2 separate regions of the Homo sapiens genome follow, and region 1 is linked to region 2. The links come from fine-mapping of genetic effects on gene expression. Tissue or cell type: whole blood. Region 2 holds a variant in brackets; the other region holds the start of a gene. All regions are shown on one strand. Distances are between the middles of the regions.

Region 1 (8,000 bases), 40 kb after region 2:
TTCCCCGTATCTCTCTGGCCCTCAGGGACCTAAGGCCCAGGTGAAGTGGGGGAACAGCAGGATTGAGGAGAAGCCAGCCTGAGGCCACAAGCAATGAAATGCCGTAGCCAGAAGCCAAGAGCTCAGAGGTCAAAGCCATCCAGCACTGGGTTTGCTTGCAGCAGCTGAGATGGAGGAAAGGAGCCCCGGGAGCTCTGGCCTTGCAGGGAGGACTGGGTTCCTGAGGGGAGGGTGAGCTATGGTGTCTGCTAAGCGGAGGAGTGTCTACCTCCCACTCAGCTTCCCCATGGATGTGCAGGACACTGTCTTCATTTGTGAGTCAAAATACATTGGCATAGGAGCCTTGCCCATTACTCATACATTTTTGTGGCTGCCTACTAAGAAGGCAGAGGAGACCCTGATACCCAGGAGCTCTAAGCTTTGAAGGGCCCTAATCATGCATAGCCTTCGCCCCCAAGCCCAAGGCTCATCCTTCCAAAATTGGGCAACTCCAGACCTGAAGCAGGCCCCAGAGCCCACCTCAGCCCTGCTGGAGCCCAGAGAAGGTGAGTCATTTGCCCAAAGTCACACAGCTGGTGAATAGCAGAATTGGGGCTAGCTAAAACAGAGCAGGAGACACAGGGAGCTGAGCCTCCAAGGGACCAGGGATCTGCCCCTCCCTAGGATGGGTAAACAGCTAAGGGAACAATGAGGTCACCTTTCCCATGTGGGCCTAACCAAGGGGAGACCCAGAGGCCTCTACCAAGAGCTGCTTCTAGGCAAATTCCGTATGTAGAGCAGGGAGAGAGCCAGGGAAGGAGGAGTCCAGAAATCTCAGAGGAGGAACTAATGAATCCCCACTGGCCGCATCTTCCCTCTACCCAGTCACAGAATCTCAGGACCCCACCTTCTTTCCTGGCTTGAATCCTCTCTCCAGCATCTCCGCCAAGCAGTCACTAACCATGTCCTTACATACCCCCCAGTGACAGGGAGCTCACTACTTCTCAGGCGGTCCTTGCCATCTTTGGATGGCTTTCATGGTCAGGATCTTCAGATTTCTAAGCTTCCTGGGGCTGTCAGATCAAGGCTAATTCTGCCAACAGGTGTTTATCTGGCGGGGGGTAAATACCTCCAGGCCCTTCCTCCACATACTCCCTTCACCACCCAGGTGCTCCCAACCTCTGTGGTTCAGAACAGAGAGGAATCCTGCAGGCAGAGGATCCCACCTCCTCCCTTGTTCTGAGGCACCTCTGGCCTCCTGAGTAGTGAGGTGGTTTAATTACACAGTTCACTCTTTTGGAATTTATTTCCACAAAAACTCCCAAGGCACATTCAGGGAAGTTGGTAACCTGCTTCAAAGTCGATATGGGTGAGAGAGAGAAGGATTCACACAAATCATTCACCTGGCAGGTGGTGTGTGAGTACACAGATGTGTGTACACATGTCCCAAGGGGCATGGTCCTCTCCAGTCTCCTACCCTCAGACTGAGCCAGGAACAGCTCCCAGCTCCCCAGCAAACAGCTGAAATGGGAGCCACTGGCCCGACAGCCCTACCAGCTCTTTCCCTGCAGGTCTTCCCACGTCTGACATTTTCTTCTAACCCCATTTTTCTTTCTCCTCCCTCTTCCGGGGAATGTCAGAACTTGCCACCCATAGAAAACTTCTTAGTTCTTAAAATCATTCCACATTCCCTGTCTCATTTGATCAGAAAAATCTTGTGAGGTGGGTAGGGGTTGGGTTATTTCCCATTCCACTGGTGGAGAAACTGAAGCTATAAGGATGAGCTACTGAGCATCTTGGTAGATTAAATGAGCGGCCCAGAGGGGCCTGAACACCCCACCCCCTCCTTGCATTTTCACTCCTAGTTCAGGTACTTCCGGGCTGCCCTGAACCACTTCCCACAAAGTGGGTCACCCACAGGCCCCTAAGGTAAAGGTTCAGGGGGAGTTGTGCCTTAATAATACACCATGCAAATGAGATGCAACACAGCACATCACAAATGAACAGCCCAGAACTCCAGGCCTTTTTTGTAATTAGGCTGTGGCAGAGGATCCAGCTTCCAGTGTAGACTCTCTCTCCTTTCAGCTGTACAAACCCTGTCATTCCCTCAGAGGATGAGCTGGGAGCCTCCTTTCTCTCTCCACGCTCCTTCCCCAGTCACCAGCCACACTGGGTGCAGCCTGGAACAGCTTTCAGGAGCCAGAAGAGAATGTGAAAGATGTTTAGAGATTGGGGTGGGAAGGGGGGTGGTCAGTTTGCCATTTAAGGTATCCAAGCAGAGATCTCACGAGGGCTTCATAATGTAGATGAGCTGACTCCCACTGAGCCTGCATCCTCAGAGGAGGTGTGTATAGCTCACGAGCATCAAGGAGAAGTGCGCGGGCCAGAGGGCCCAGAGGCTCAAAGGCTCACAGCCAGGCAATGGCAACCCTGTAACCACAGCCCCGGGGTCCGGTTTCCCAGCCCAGCACTCTGTCTTTGATTGTCCTGTGACCTTCACTCCCTTGGCCTCAGTTTCCCCAGCTCTACACTGAGGGGTTGGACTCGCTGCTTCAAACTCCCAAGCTCCCACTTTCTTGGATTCCACAATCCCATGTTAAGGTAGAGCCAGAGGATGTCTGAACATGGGACAAAAAGGGAGTCCTGAATTTCCCAACTCTGGGGTCCAGGAGACCTGTCTCTGTAGAGTCCTAAGCTCTCAGGGTTCAGGAGGCTACCCAGGAACAATGAGCCCTTGTGCCTGAAGCTTGGGCACAACTACCCTCTTGATTTTCTGTTTGGCATCCCAGGCACCACAAACCTGCCACGGTCATACCAGCCTGGCCCAAAGGGCAGTGAAAGGAAGTGTGCTCATGAGGCAAAGGCACAACCTCTGGACCCTGGTGGCAAGTGGCCTGTCCATGCTGAATAATACATGAAGTTCCTGTGGGACTGGGAAAGAAGGGCAGTGGCAGAGAAGTTGCACCATCTCGGATTAACCTTTGGGTCACCCACAGAAAAAGAGAGAATCCCAAATATGCCTTTTTACAGTTTTTTTTTTTACCTCCATTGCCCCAAGTTTCAAAAAATCCATATAACGCCTTCAGCCCATTCTAAACACAGCCCAAGAGCATAGCTCCAGACTTATACACCTGTGCACACACGTGCACAGCACGAACTCTTGGGTAACACCCCACGTGCCTGCGTGTGTGCGTACACACACAAAGGGCATATATGTACAAATACTCAAAATAGGAAAAGACTTAGAGATTGGGATTCACAAGCCCTGGACACCCCTTTAATGACCACAGAGAAGCACCTTTAATCTGAGCTCCCTCTGTAAAACGGAGACCACATGATCACTTGCCTCATAGAGGCAAGTAAGTTTTGCAAGTTGGTAAGAAAGCTCCTAGGCTGTATGCACTTAGCTCACCTGAACTGTGCTGGAGGCTGGAGTCAGCAGGCTGAAGAGCAGCCTGTCTTAGAAAGAGATTTGGAGTGAGAGTCACCAAAGGCTTGATTTTCTTTTCTTATTTATTTATTTTTTTAGAGACAGGGTCTCACTCTTTCGCCCAGGCCACAGTGCAGTGGTGCGATCATAGCTCACAGTAATCTAAAACTCCTGGGCTGAAGTGATCCTCCCACCTCTGCCTCCCAAAGGGTGGGATTACAGGCGTGAACCACTGCACCTGGCCTGTAGCCTGTTTTTCTATCCCAGCTCTGCCTTCATTGAACTGGGTAACTTTGGGCAAGTCCCTTCCTCTCTCTGGGCCTCCCTTTCTCCATCTGTGAGAAGGGAGTTGGACTACAGGAATCCTGACACCCTGCACCTGTCTCCAGACTGGGGTCTGCTTCTCCCTTCTGAGTCCGGAGTGGTGGGGATGGCCTGCTCTCAGACCTCAGTCTTACCTAGAGAAAAGAAGGTGGCAGGAAACCTTCCTAAGAAGGGTGGGACACTGCACAGCCGGCCTCCCAAAACACCTGGTTGAGCAGGTGCTCTGGATGCCCTGGGGGCAATCCATGCCCAGGTGGGCAACCGAGTCCTAACCTGAGGCAGATGCTGAGGGAAGACCCTCCATCAGGAACCCGCGGCTGATTGCGAAACGCCCCTTCCGCACCCGACGGAGGGGCTGGGATGGAGCCGACTCACCCAGCCACGCACTGTGCCTTTGCGCCCCAGCCGCGCACTCTTCCTCACTTTCCCGGGCTCCCCAGTGCTGCAGCCGGGAAGGGCAGAGCAGGGCAGGTCCCCGACACCGCGTGGGACCCGGCTCCGGGCGGCGCAGCCAACCTCCCTCCCGAGCCCATCGCCCCCTCCCGGGCGCCCAGGCCGTCTCAGGGGCTCCGTCCCGGGATACCTGCCGGCCCCGCGGGAAGGCAGGCGGCGGGGACCGGGCGAAGCCGGCCGACCCTGGCCCCCGCGCAGTGACCCCGGAGCCCCGCGCCTTACCCAGAACTTGGAGCCGAGCTCCCCGGAACCGCACAGGGCGTCCATGGGGCCGAGGCGCGGCTGCAAGGAAGGCGAGCGCGGTCGGACCCAGCGGCGGGCAGAGCGGGCGCCGGAGCCGCCTCCGCCCTCCGCACCCCGCGCTCCGCCCGGACCCGCCCTGCCGAGCCCTACCCCAGTGCCTCTGGGTCCGGTCTCCCTGCCCCCGTCCCGCGGGTTGCGACAGCGCCTCCCTGGGAGGGACTTTGGGGCAGAGGTGGGGGGGCCCTTGGCACGGCGACAGCCCCTGCGAGCGGCCCCTGGGCCAAGCCAGGGGGATGTCTCTCTAAATACCGAGGCTAACAGTCCAGGAGTCGAGTCTATTTCCAAGGGGGAACTGGGATACACAGGCGCTCCCACTCCCGAACAAGTCCGTGGGGCCGATGAGTCATTGAGTAGGGGACGTAGGGAGAGGGATTTAACAATCTTTCCTAGTAAAAAAGGAATCTTTGAGAAGGTCACGTTCCTCTCCGGAGGTCAGTTTCCTCATCTGTAAAATGGGAAGGGCTTCTGTGCTCAATCAGGAAGCTGACCTCTTCCCCATCAGGTTCCAGAGACCACTGGCAGGCGCCACACGGGGAGCACACGGGGTGTGCTCCGCGGGTGTGTACCCGTGAGGCGGGGGTGGGGGCCGCAGCATCGTCCAGCGGGGGCCTCTTATGTCCTCTTAAACTGCTGCCCTCTTAGGCTCTGTGGCTCCCTGACCTTGCCACATCACCTCGGCACGTCTCTGGGCCTCTACTTTCACATCCGTAAAATAGAGACAATCATAGAAGAGAATCTTCCTCCCAGGGTTCTCTGAGGATTGAATGGAAAGGGTAGGCAAAGCGTATTTCCTGGCACACTTAGTGGGCACCCAACATGTGTGAATTCCCTCTGCTTCAGCCTGATCAGGGTTGGGGGGGGAAGGACAGGTGAAGCCCCAGGAGGAGCCCCACGTGAGTGTCCTCGTCCTCGTCCTCCTCCTAAGGCTGAAACTCTACATTCCTGATCTGTAAAATGGGCTTGTCAGTGCTCTCCTTCTCCTGCTTGCCTCAGCTCTCCTTCTCCCGGTATCCCCTCAGATGCGGGGATCCCTCCATCTCTCAATCCCGCTGTTGCCCTGTCTTCCTTAACACAATCCCAGACGCCAACTCAGCACCGCTTGTTGGGGCTCAGAAGGAATTCTCCCTGGCAAATCTTTCCCTGGCCCTTCTCTTCCCTGCCTTTGCCCACAGGTCTGTCCAGTTTCACCCCGGTGACCCCTTTTCTGGCCCTTGTTCTCAAGAGAAGGTGTTTCCTTCCTTGGCTGCTCAGCGGCAGGTGTGGGTGGGAGCCAGTAAGAGTGCAGAAGGGGCAAGCCACCTCCTATCTCTCTGGGCAGCCAGGAGGTCACTAGAAGGGAAGTCTCCTTGGCTATAGGCTATCAGAACCAAGATCTGGCTGGGCATGGGATAGGGGTGGGAGTGGAGAAGATTCCCCTTTCCCAGGCAGTCAGACCAGGGACTTCTACCCCTCCACTGGGCAAGTTCTTTCAGCCCCTTCTTTGTCTGCCCTCTTCCTTTCCACTCATCCACACATACCCTCCCTCTCCTGTCCCCCTACCTTCATCTCTGGGCAAAATACTTTACAGAGCTTTACACCTTGTTACGGCGTGCCTTGGATTATATTTAGTTATGAAGAGTCTGTCTTCCCTGCTAATCTGAGAGGTCCCCAAGGGCAGGGACTAACTCAGTCCCCTCCAATCCCCCTCCATACCTTTTATACACTGTGTGATCTCAATAAGCTCCTTGATGCCTCTGGGACTTCATTTCTTGAGAAACGTGGACAGGGTGATATCTAAGCTCTCTTCCAGCCCTGGTGGGCCAGGCTTCTATGGCCTAGGCAGCTGGGAACCTTCCTCCACCCCTTCCATGACCCTGGTCATGGCTTCATCAGCACCCACTGCCCCTGTGTTTTGACCTTGTCTACCCACCGGCTTCCTCCAACTCTCCCTCCTCTCCCATTCCTTTTCTAGGGCTTGTGGGGTCATAGGCACCAGATTGCTCTGGGCTTGAGGAGACCTGGGGACTTTCCTTTAGGGCCCTTTGGGAGGTGAGCTCCCCAATCAGACCTCCTTTCTGAGATGGAGAGCCCAGAACTAGCCTGAGCTTCCGTCCGGGACTTTCCAGCCCCACAGTTGGCCAGGCAGTGCACTGGCTGGAGCTCTAGTTTTGGGCTAGGACCCTTGGGTTCTGGCTTCAGCATCGGAGCTGAAGCACCATCCCTTGCAGCCCCAGGCTTTTCTATCGCTATTGCTTTCCCAAGGCTATAGCACTGGGTTGGGCACTCTGAGGGCGTGGTGGGGGCCCTTAGCGATCCTCACCTTCCCCCATCTCTCTTGAGGTATTGGGGCTTTACCCCTCCAGGCCACTCAGGAAGTGTGTCCCCTTTCACAGAGCCCTTGAATAATAACCACAATATTTCTAGGATGTTATTGTTTTGGTTGTTCTCACCAGAGCAAGAAATCTGAGGCCCTGAGACACCCTACAGCTTGCTCAGCGCCACAGAGCTTATCCCAGCACACGCAGGAGGCGCCCCACGTCTGCCGAGGAGACTGTTTCTGCGCAGTCTCCTTGAGCGGGATGCACTTCCTGTATCTGTCTTCAAGGCTGCTTGGTGCACTCTCCTACCTACACCCTACCTCCCTTTCTGCAAGTGGCAAACTTCTTCAAGAGTTCGCTCAAGCCCCCCTCCCCGTCAAAGCCTTCCTTGGACCTCCCCAACCCAGTCCTGGGCTAGGAGGCTTCCCCCACTTGTAATCACTGATGTCTTGCTTACCTCCCCCAGAGGACTGTGGACACCTTGAGGGTAGGGACTGAAGTTTGTTTATCACTGTATCCTCAGCACCCAGGACAGTGCCTGGAGAAGTTGGTCCTCAGGAAGTGTTGTTGACTGATTAAGCAAACACCTCATTTCCTAAGAAGGAGTCATAGGTAACAAGGCCACTGTGGCATTAAGTACAGTCCCAGCAGTGGGCACTGCCCACTTTGCTTTTGAGTGTTCAGAACCAAGATGGTTCTTGCTGGAAGGGCTCCGGAGAAGCAGTAACGGCCTTGTGGGTTGGGCTGCAGCAGAGAAATGGACCAAACCTCCCCCAGCCTTCATGGCCCAAGCCCCATCCTCCCTCCCCAACTGACTGCTGCTCCAGGCAGGATGGATGGAGCATGTGCGGTGCCTCCCCCGCAGTGAGTGTCCCAGGGGAACCCGGCGTCAAGGATTTCCTGGCAAGGAGATGGAAAGATAAAATAATTGCAAGGTACAGCTCAGAGCAAGCATGACAGCAGAGAGAAGAAAGCAGAATGGGGGCAATGGGGAGACCCAGGCACAGGAAATGCTCCGAAGGGAGAGAGGCAGGTTGGAACTGACAAGACAGAGGGGCAGGGTGTGGAATAGCAAAGCTTCCCCTCCAAGCACTGCCTGATTCCTTTTAGCCCCTTGCGGCTCCTTGGAGGCTTGGAGCACCCCCAAACCAGGCTGCAGCTCCCACGCCCCAGCCTCCCCCTTGTCCTCTCCCCTGAAGTGGGGTCTGCTTCCT
Region 2 (8,211 bases):
CCCCTCCCCACCGTAATGGCTTTGGGAGGAGTTCAGACTCCTGGATCATGTGCCCATCCATGGGATCCTAGCCCATGGATGACCCAGGTGGGCCTGGATCAAGCCCACAGGCATGCCAGCTGGGGCTGTAATCACGAATGACTCCCTTGGGCAGTGACAGTGCAGACTTAACCAAGGACCACCTCGCCTTGGTTTCTGTTTCTCCAACTTTAATATGTATAAGACTTCCCAGAGAATCTTGTTAAAATGCAACGCCGGATTCTGTAGTCTGAGGTGGGACTTGGAACCTGAGATTCTTCATTTCTAACAAGCTCCCAGAGGATGGTGATGCAACTGGCCCATGGGCCACACTTTGCGTACCAAGGAGTCTTGATCAAAGTGCAGAGTCCTGAGCCCCATCCTAGGTCTACTGAATCAAAATGTACATTTTAACAAGTAGATTCATGTGCACACTGACCTTTGTGAAAATTGACCTTTCTGGATTGTTTTTTGTTTGCCAACGCGTTCAAGGTTTGAGCCACCTGAGGTATTAACAATGTGATCTGCTTTACAAAAATTCCGTTTGCAGTTAGGTGACTCTTTGACAGTACAAGCTGGCATCAGGATGACCTGCCTGACCTGCAGACCAGGCTTCAGTCACCTCGTCTGTGTACGTTCTCTGCAAGCATGTGAACGTGAGCGAGCGGTATGCCAGCCCTACACTGTCCTGACCTGTCACATGAGCCTACAACTTGCCCAGAGACAAGAGAAATTCTGTTTGTCCTTTGGGGCTAAGCTCCAAGATCATTTCTACAACACCCCAAAGCAAGAAAACTCCTCTGGACTTTTTTTTTTTCTCTCTTGAGATGGAGTCTCGCTCTGTCACCCAGGCTGGAGTGCAGTGGCGTGATCTTGGCTCACTGCAACCTCTGCCTCCCAGGTTCAAGCTATTCTCCTGCCTCAGCCTCCTGAGTAGCTGGGATTACAGATGCCCGCCACCACGGCTGGCTAATTTTTGTATTTAAGTAGAGATAGGGTTTCACCATGTTGGCCAGGCTGTTCTGGAGCTCCTGGCCTCAGGTGATCCGCCCACCTCCGCCTCCCAAAGTGCTGGGATTAGGTGTGAGCCACTGCACCCAGTCCCTCTTCTGGGCTTTTAAAACATTTTGTTTCTCCAGCCACAAAGACCTGCTCAGCCTGCAGCACAATCTCCTGCTGATGGGGGTCTCTCCAGTTGAACTGTGAGGTGTCAGGCAAGGTCGACGGCTGAGCAGGAGAGAGATGTGGGGTTTGAGGACAGAGATTATTCAACAGAATTCTTTCTGAATGTGAGAACATGGGCTTCTTGGGGAAGGAAAGTAGGAACATCCAGCCATGGTGTGTGGTTATAAACTTGTCAACTCAATGATTTTTTTCTTTTTTTTTTTTTCTCACAGTCCTTGAGAACAGACCCTGTGGCTGGTGCCCATACTGAGCAGGGAGGGGCACTCGGGAGATGCCTGGAACACCTGTGTGGTTTCTGTCCCAGTGGTGGCCCTGCCCTGGGGTCCAGGCCCTTCATACCTGCAAGGAGTAGGACACAGAAAGGCCCACCAGCCCCGGGTTCAGGCTGCTCCTCCCGATGACGGCAAATAGTGCAGCAAAGAGCACCACGCAGTTCCCCACGAACTCCACTCCGATGCTCAGCCACCTATGGGGGATCAGATGAGGAGGAAATGGGGCAGGGGCAGGGCAGGGCCAGTTTTCTGCTTAGGGGAAAGGAGGGACAAGGACCCTGAACACCAGAGAGCCTGCTGGGAATTCCTGGAGGAGCAGGGAGCGAGGGAGGCGGCTTCTGACCGGTTGGAGATGATGTAGGGGTAGCAGCTTCTCTGGTTGGCATCCACCTTAGTATCACTGATGATCTCAAAATCCCGGCTGCGGTTGTAGGCCCGGATGACACTGGCACCAGTCACTGTCTCCGAAAAGTGGGAGTAGATAGGTGAGCGGCTGACTGATTCCAGCCGCTTCAGTTGCCGTGATGTGGCTGCATAGAAGCGCTGATGGAGGGAGAAGGAGTTTGGGGTCAGGGCCATGGAACCCCCAACTCAGTCCTGCCTGTCTCTGAACTCATCCATTTTCAGATGAGTCCTCCCAGCCAGCCTCACTCCCACCACGAGACATCGCTGCCTTCCCCCACCTCCAAGGACCCAAGACTTGGGGCCTTGATGTGTCATTCACTCCCTCCCTCTGATCATCTCTGCTTCAACCCCACAACAACACGGCTCTGCCTCCAGTTTCCATCCTCTCCTCTGTGGCCTCAGATATCCAGGCTATACAGGATGTCTATCTGATTCTCCCCTAGCCCAGCACAGAGCACAGCCTAGATCATGGTCGCTATACCCAGGTGTTGAGCATCTATCCCCGGGAACTGACTAATTCATTACAGAACAGGAGTTCAGTGTCTGCAAAGGCCTTTTACAGTTAGCTGTATCTGAAGGTTATCAACTCATCTATGTTAAACGCATGCATACACGTATGTTTAGATATGTATAAAAGGAAGGAAAGGATAATGTGTCCCAAACTGTTGACAATGTTTTATCAAAAAACAGCCAACAGGAAGGCCGGGTATGGTGGTTCCCACCTGTAATCCCAGCACTTTGGGAGGCCGAGGTGGGCGGATCACTTGAGGTCAGGAGTTCAAGAGCAGCCTGGCCAACATAGTGAAACCCCATCTCTACTAAAACTACAAAAATTAGCTGGGCGTGGTGGCGCATGCCTGTAATCCCAGCTACCTGGGAGGCTGAAACAGAATTGCTTGAACCTGGGAGGCGGAGGTTACAGTGAGCTGAGATCGTGCAGCTGCACTCCAGCCTGAGCGACAGAGCGAGACTCGAGATTCCGTCCCCCCCCCCCCAAAAAAAAAAAGCCAACAGGAAAGTCCCAGTGCCAGCTACAATGTATAACTATTTCATTTTATTCTCTCACCAACTCCATGAGGAAGGTCTATGAGTCATTCTATTTTACAGGTGAGGCAAATGAGTTTCAAAGAGGTTAAGTAATGGCTCCCCTAACATAAATGTTAAGCAACGACTGCCCCTAACAAAACTCTGTAATGTTGGTGGCCTGAAGTGTCCCACCCCTGCTGCCCCCGCCCATGTGTTGCCCCGCCCCAATAACACCACGCCCACACTGGAATCACGCCCACCCCACACCTGCACTAAGGTGTAGAGCACAGCCAGGGGCAGGATGACCACAGTGAAGAGCGGCGTGCTGGCCATGATGACCACAAGAGTGGAGATGGCGTTGAAGAAGGAATTGAGCAGCATGAGGATGACAGGGGCCAGAACCTCATCAACGACATAGATGTCCTTGGAGAAGCAGTTCAGGATGCGGCCTGATGGTGTGGTGTCAAAGAAGGACTGTGGCGAGCGTATCTTGTTGTGCAGCAGTGCCTGGTGCAACACACGGGCAGCCTGGATGCCACCCGCTGCCATGGCCATGGCTGCCAGCATCACCAAGAACCCTGTTGGAGAAGGCAGAGGGCGCTGGCTCACCTGGACTAGTGAGCGGGCACAAAGGGGCAGAATCAGAGACACGGGTTGACCAGAGTGGGTTAGGGAGGCTTGGATGCAAGGGCACGGTTTGGGGGGCCTGGCAGCCCAGAGAAGAAGGGATATTGGAGCCCCTTCTGGACACCCCCACAAGCTCACCTTGCAGAATTCCTAAAGCAGCATAGACGCCCAGCCTCAGGGAAGTGTTGTTCTGTCTACTGTCTGCCATGGCATCATTTGTCCAGGCACTGAGCCACACATTGGCTCCAATGGCAGCCGCACTTTGACCCACATACAGGAGACAGATGGCCAGCGTGGTACAGAGCCCCACGGCCTTGGCATAATCCCAGAACACACTGAGCTCCACCTGTAGGGAGCAGCCATGGCAGTCAGGGACAGGGGACTCCATAAACCCTGGGGCTGCTGGGGCCTGCCTGTCCATCCCCTCCAGCCCCTCTTGCCCCACCGACTCACAGTGCCAATGGCTGCTTTCTCCTCCTGGGTCAGTGCCCCATCTGCCTTCGCCTCTGTCACCTGCACCTTCTCTGATGGACCCAGGTGCCTCCGGGGTACAGGCCGACCCTGTCCCTCCCCATCTGAGGACAGGGCACTCAGCTGTCTGTGGAGGCAGCTGGTCAGGCCCAGGGAGGGGGCCTCAAGCACCCCCCAGGACAGAGGCTGGGAGTGTCAGGGAGAAACCTGCACCCCATCTGGCAGGGCCTGGGGAGGCCTGATACAGCCTCCGGGAGGGCTGGGAGCTCTCAGGAACTCACCTCATAAACTGCTTCTGGACCACATAGGTGACTGGATCATTGTCTGTCAGATCCGTGTGGTTGCTGAGTGTGTCTTCAATCAGCAGTGCCTCCTTATCCTCTGCACCTTCCAACGCTGCAGTAGGGTGGGAGGAAGGAGATAGGGTTCAGCTAGTTCTCCCTGCAAGCCCCTGGTATCTCCCATTCCCCACTCTAATGAAAGGGGTTCAATGGACAAGCATGAAAATAAAATGAGGG[G/A]GATTGAAAGGGCAACAAGAAAGACTTGGGTTAAGCAACAAGAAAAACTCTCTTCACAAATTATGGAGAAACGGACTCAAATACAAGGGTTAGGAACTTGGGCTCTGGAGTTAGACTGGCTGAGCTTAAAACTCACGTCCTTGGTCGGGCATGGTGGCTCACGCCTGTAATCCCAGCACTTTGGGAGGCTGAGGCAGGCAGCTCACGAGGTCAGGAGATCGAGACCAGCCTGGCCAACATGGTGAAACCCCGTCTCTACTAAAAATACAAAAATTAGCCGGGCGTGGTGGCGGGCACCTATAATCCTGGCTACTCGGGAGGCTGAGGCAGGAGAATCGCTTGAACCCAGGAGGCAAAGGTTGCAGTGAGCCAAGATCGCACCGTTGCACTCCAGCCTGGGCAACAGAGTGAGAAACTGTCCCCAAAAAAAAAAAAAAAAAATCTGCATGACTGTAGGCTTAAAAGAAAATGTGTCCAGTGTGTGAGCGAGGGGCACAGCACTTGGTAAATGCTCAAGGCACGTTGGCTGTATGTATAGCCATAGGCAAGAAAGCCCAGGAAAAGGTCTGTGAGCCAATCCAGAATTGGGGGCTGGGGAGCTGGGTCTGGGCAACAAGGAGCCAGGGGCATGTTGTGAGCCCAGAGACGTCAACAAGCTCCATGAGGACTATAATTTTTTTGTTTGCTCACTGCTATAGCTTAGTGTCTGGAACAGTGCCTGTATATAGTGATTGTCCAATAAATTTTGGTTGATAAATAAGCGGCTTTGCTAAGCACTTGCATACTTGCCAAACTATTTATCCATGAAGCAGCCTTGCCACACAAGCTGGGCCTGGGCCCTCCTATGCTTTCAACAGATGGAAAACAGGCTCTGAGATCGGGCAAGGTGGCTCACACCTGTAATCCCAGCACTTTGGGAGGCCGAGGCAGGCAGATCACGAGGTCAAGAGATCGAGACCATCCTGGCCAACATGGTGAAACCATGTCTGTACTAAAAATACAAAAATTAGCCAGGCGTGGTGGCGCATGCCTGTAGTCCCAGCTACTCGGGAGCCTGAGGCAGGAGAATCACTTGAACCTGGGAGGCAGAGGTTGCAGTGAGCTGAGATTGTACCACTGCACTCCAGCCCGGCGACAGAGCCAGACTCTGCCTCAAAAGAAAAAAAAGAAAGAAAGAAAGAAAGAAAGAAAGAAAGAAAGAAAGAGAGAGAGAGAGAGAGAGAGAGAGAGAGAGAGAGAGAGAGAGAGAGAGAGAGAGAGAAAGAAAGAAAGAAAGAAAGAAAGAAAGAAAGAAAGAAAGAAAGAAAGAAAGAAAGAAAGAAAGAAAGAAAGAAAGAAAACAGGCTCTGAGACCGGGGCGGAGGATCTGAGTTCCCACAGTTAGGGTAGAGTAGGATGGAGGAGGCAGTGGGACCCGACTATGTCCAGTTTACTTTACCTCTGGTGACTGTCACACAGATGGCCCAAGTTTCCCAGAACCTGCCTGGCACAACACTAGGCCAGTCTAGACACACTCAGAGACCCCAGACAGGGGGAATGCTGGGAAGGCATGGGAATCAGAGGGCCCAGGATGGCAGATACCGGTCCAGCTGTCCTCCAGGTGCCCTTGGTCCTCATCGGGGGCATAGTTGCAGAGAAAGTTGGCAAAGGAGCCGTTGCGCTGCAGCAGGGCTGGGTACGGGCCCATCTCAGACACCTGTCCATCAGCTAGCACAATGATGAAGTCTGTCTGGGGCAGGAAGCTAATGCCGTGCGTCACCAGCACTCGCGTCTGGGGAGAAGGCAGCAGGCTCTCACCCCTACCACCCTCCAGCACACCCCTGGCACAGGCACGGAGCCACAGAGTGAGTGTGAAGTGTGCCCATGTGCCAGGGAGCTTGGACAGGCACATGGGTGACTCACCCTGTGCTCGCCACAGCCTGCTCAGAACCTCGCAGGTGGGGGAGTTGTCCCCACAGGTTTCTCCTGATGCCCAACCCACATGCCCACTTCTTGCGCCCCCCACACCTCCAAGTCTCATCCAAACCCCTCAGCCTCTCACCAGCTCTCTCTTCGGGCCTCAGATCTCACCTTAGCCCCCTTAGCCTCTGGCAGGCCTCACCTTGCCTGCCAGCACGCCTTCTGGCCCGATGACGTGGTCAAAGATGTGCTTGGCCACATGAGAGTCCACCGCGGACAGTGGGTCATCCAGCAAGAAAATATCGGCATCACTGTAAACAGCTCGAGCCAGACTGACCCGCTGCCGCTGGCCCCCAGACAGGTTAATGCCCTGGAGGGAGGCGGGGGGTGGGAAAAATGGGGTCAGACAGGCACAGGGAGACAACGGCCTGTCCACTGTTATTTGGGATGGCAGATTTTTTTTTTTTTTTCCTGAGATGGGGTCTCACTCACCCAGGCTGGAGTGCAGTGGTGCGATCTTGGCTCACTGCAACCTCTGCCTCTCGCGTTTGAGCAATTCTCATGCCTCAGCCTCCCGAGTAGCTAGGATTGATTGCAGGACCACCATGCCTGGCTACTGACTAAAATGTTTTATTTTTTATAGAGACAGAATCTCCATATGTTGCCCAGCCTGGTCTCCAACTCCTGAGCTCAAGCAATTGGCCCACGTCAGCCTCCCAAAGTAAAGTGCTGGGATTACAGGTGTGAGCCACTGTGCCTGACCAGAACAGCAGTCTTCTGAATCTATATTTCACATGGGGCCTAGTCTGTCCCTGCAATGCTGTGAGGGACAGAGGTAAAGGGTAAGTCCTCCTGGGGCAGGTGAGGCCATTCTGCTCCATTGGTCACCACCCTGCCCAGCTTGGTGTCCTGCCCAACCCATCTACGGATAAATGGGCACACAAATGTGTATATACCTATAATGAAATATCATTCAGCCTTACAAGGAGGGAAATTCTGACACATGCTACAACATGGATATGCCTTGAGGACATTATGCTAAGTGAAATAAGCCCGTCACGAAAAGACAAATGCTGGATGATTCCACTTACGTGAGGTACCTAGGTGATATGGTTGAAATATTTGTTCCTTCCAAAGTGCATGTTGAAACTTACCCCCCAGTGTGGCAGGATTGAGGGGTGGCATTTACCAGGTGATTAGGTCATGAAAACAGAGCCCTCATGAATGGTTGATCCATTTATGGATTAATAGGTTGATGCGTGAATGGGTTACTGGGGGAGTGGGACCGGTGGCTTTATAAGAAAGAAAGAGAAACCTGAGGTCGCGCGTGGTGGCTCATGCCTGTAATCCCAGCAATTTGGGAGGTCGAGGTGGGTGGATCATTTGAAGTCAGGAGTTCAAGACCAGCATGGCCAATATGGTGAAACCCATCTCTACTAAAAATACAAAAATTAGTCGGGCTGTAGTTGCGTGCGCCTGTAATCCCAGCTATTCGGGAGGCTGAGGAAGGAGAATCGTTTGAACCTGGGAGGCGGAGGTTGCAGTGAGCCAAGATCACGCCGCTGTACTCCAATCTACAGTCTGGGCAACAGAGTGAAGCCTTGTCTCAAAAAAAAAAAAAAAAAAAAAAAAAAAAAAGGAAGGAAGGAAGAGAGACCTGAGCTAGCATGCTCGGTCCCCTTGCCATGGGATGCCCTGTATGGCCTTGGGACTCTGCAGACTCCCCGCCAACAAGGAGGCCCTCTCCAGATGCAGCCCCTGGACCGTGGACTCTTCAGCCTCCGTAACTG

The links. PIP is the estimated chance that this variant, and not a neighbour inherited with it, causes the effect.
Region 1: it holds the start of ABCC3, and the variant in region 2 is fine-mapped to the expression of ABCC3 in whole blood (INTERVAL, PIP above 0.99).

Annotation. Positions count from the first base shown.
Region 1 is chr17:50,631,390-50,639,389 of GRCh38, reverse strand. ABCC3 (ATP binding cassette subfamily C member 3) reads right to left here and starts at 4,509. Exons shown (of 31, transcript NM_003786.4): 1 at 4,409-4,509. The coding sequence starts at 4,453. LOC101927253 (a long non-coding RNA gene) reads left to right here and starts at 7,450. Exons shown (of 2, transcript XR_243718.2): 1 at 7,450-7,650. RefSeq lists an enhancer at 1-759 and a silencer at 4,490-4,539.
Region 2 is chr17:50,671,551-50,679,761 of GRCh38, reverse strand. ABCC3 (ATP binding cassette subfamily C member 3) reads right to left here. Exons shown (of 31, transcript NM_003786.4): 18 at 6,624-6,791; 19 at 6,104-6,293; 20 at 4,286-4,400; 21 at 3,987-4,131; 22 at 3,672-3,879; 23 at 3,174-3,484; 24 at 1,819-2,018; 25 at 1,543-1,669. Among named protein-coding and RNA genes, the nearest start is that of ANKRD40, 32 kb to the left of the region's middle. RefSeq lists a silencer at 2,140-2,434. The variant G/A (reference allele first, on the strand shown) is at 4,523.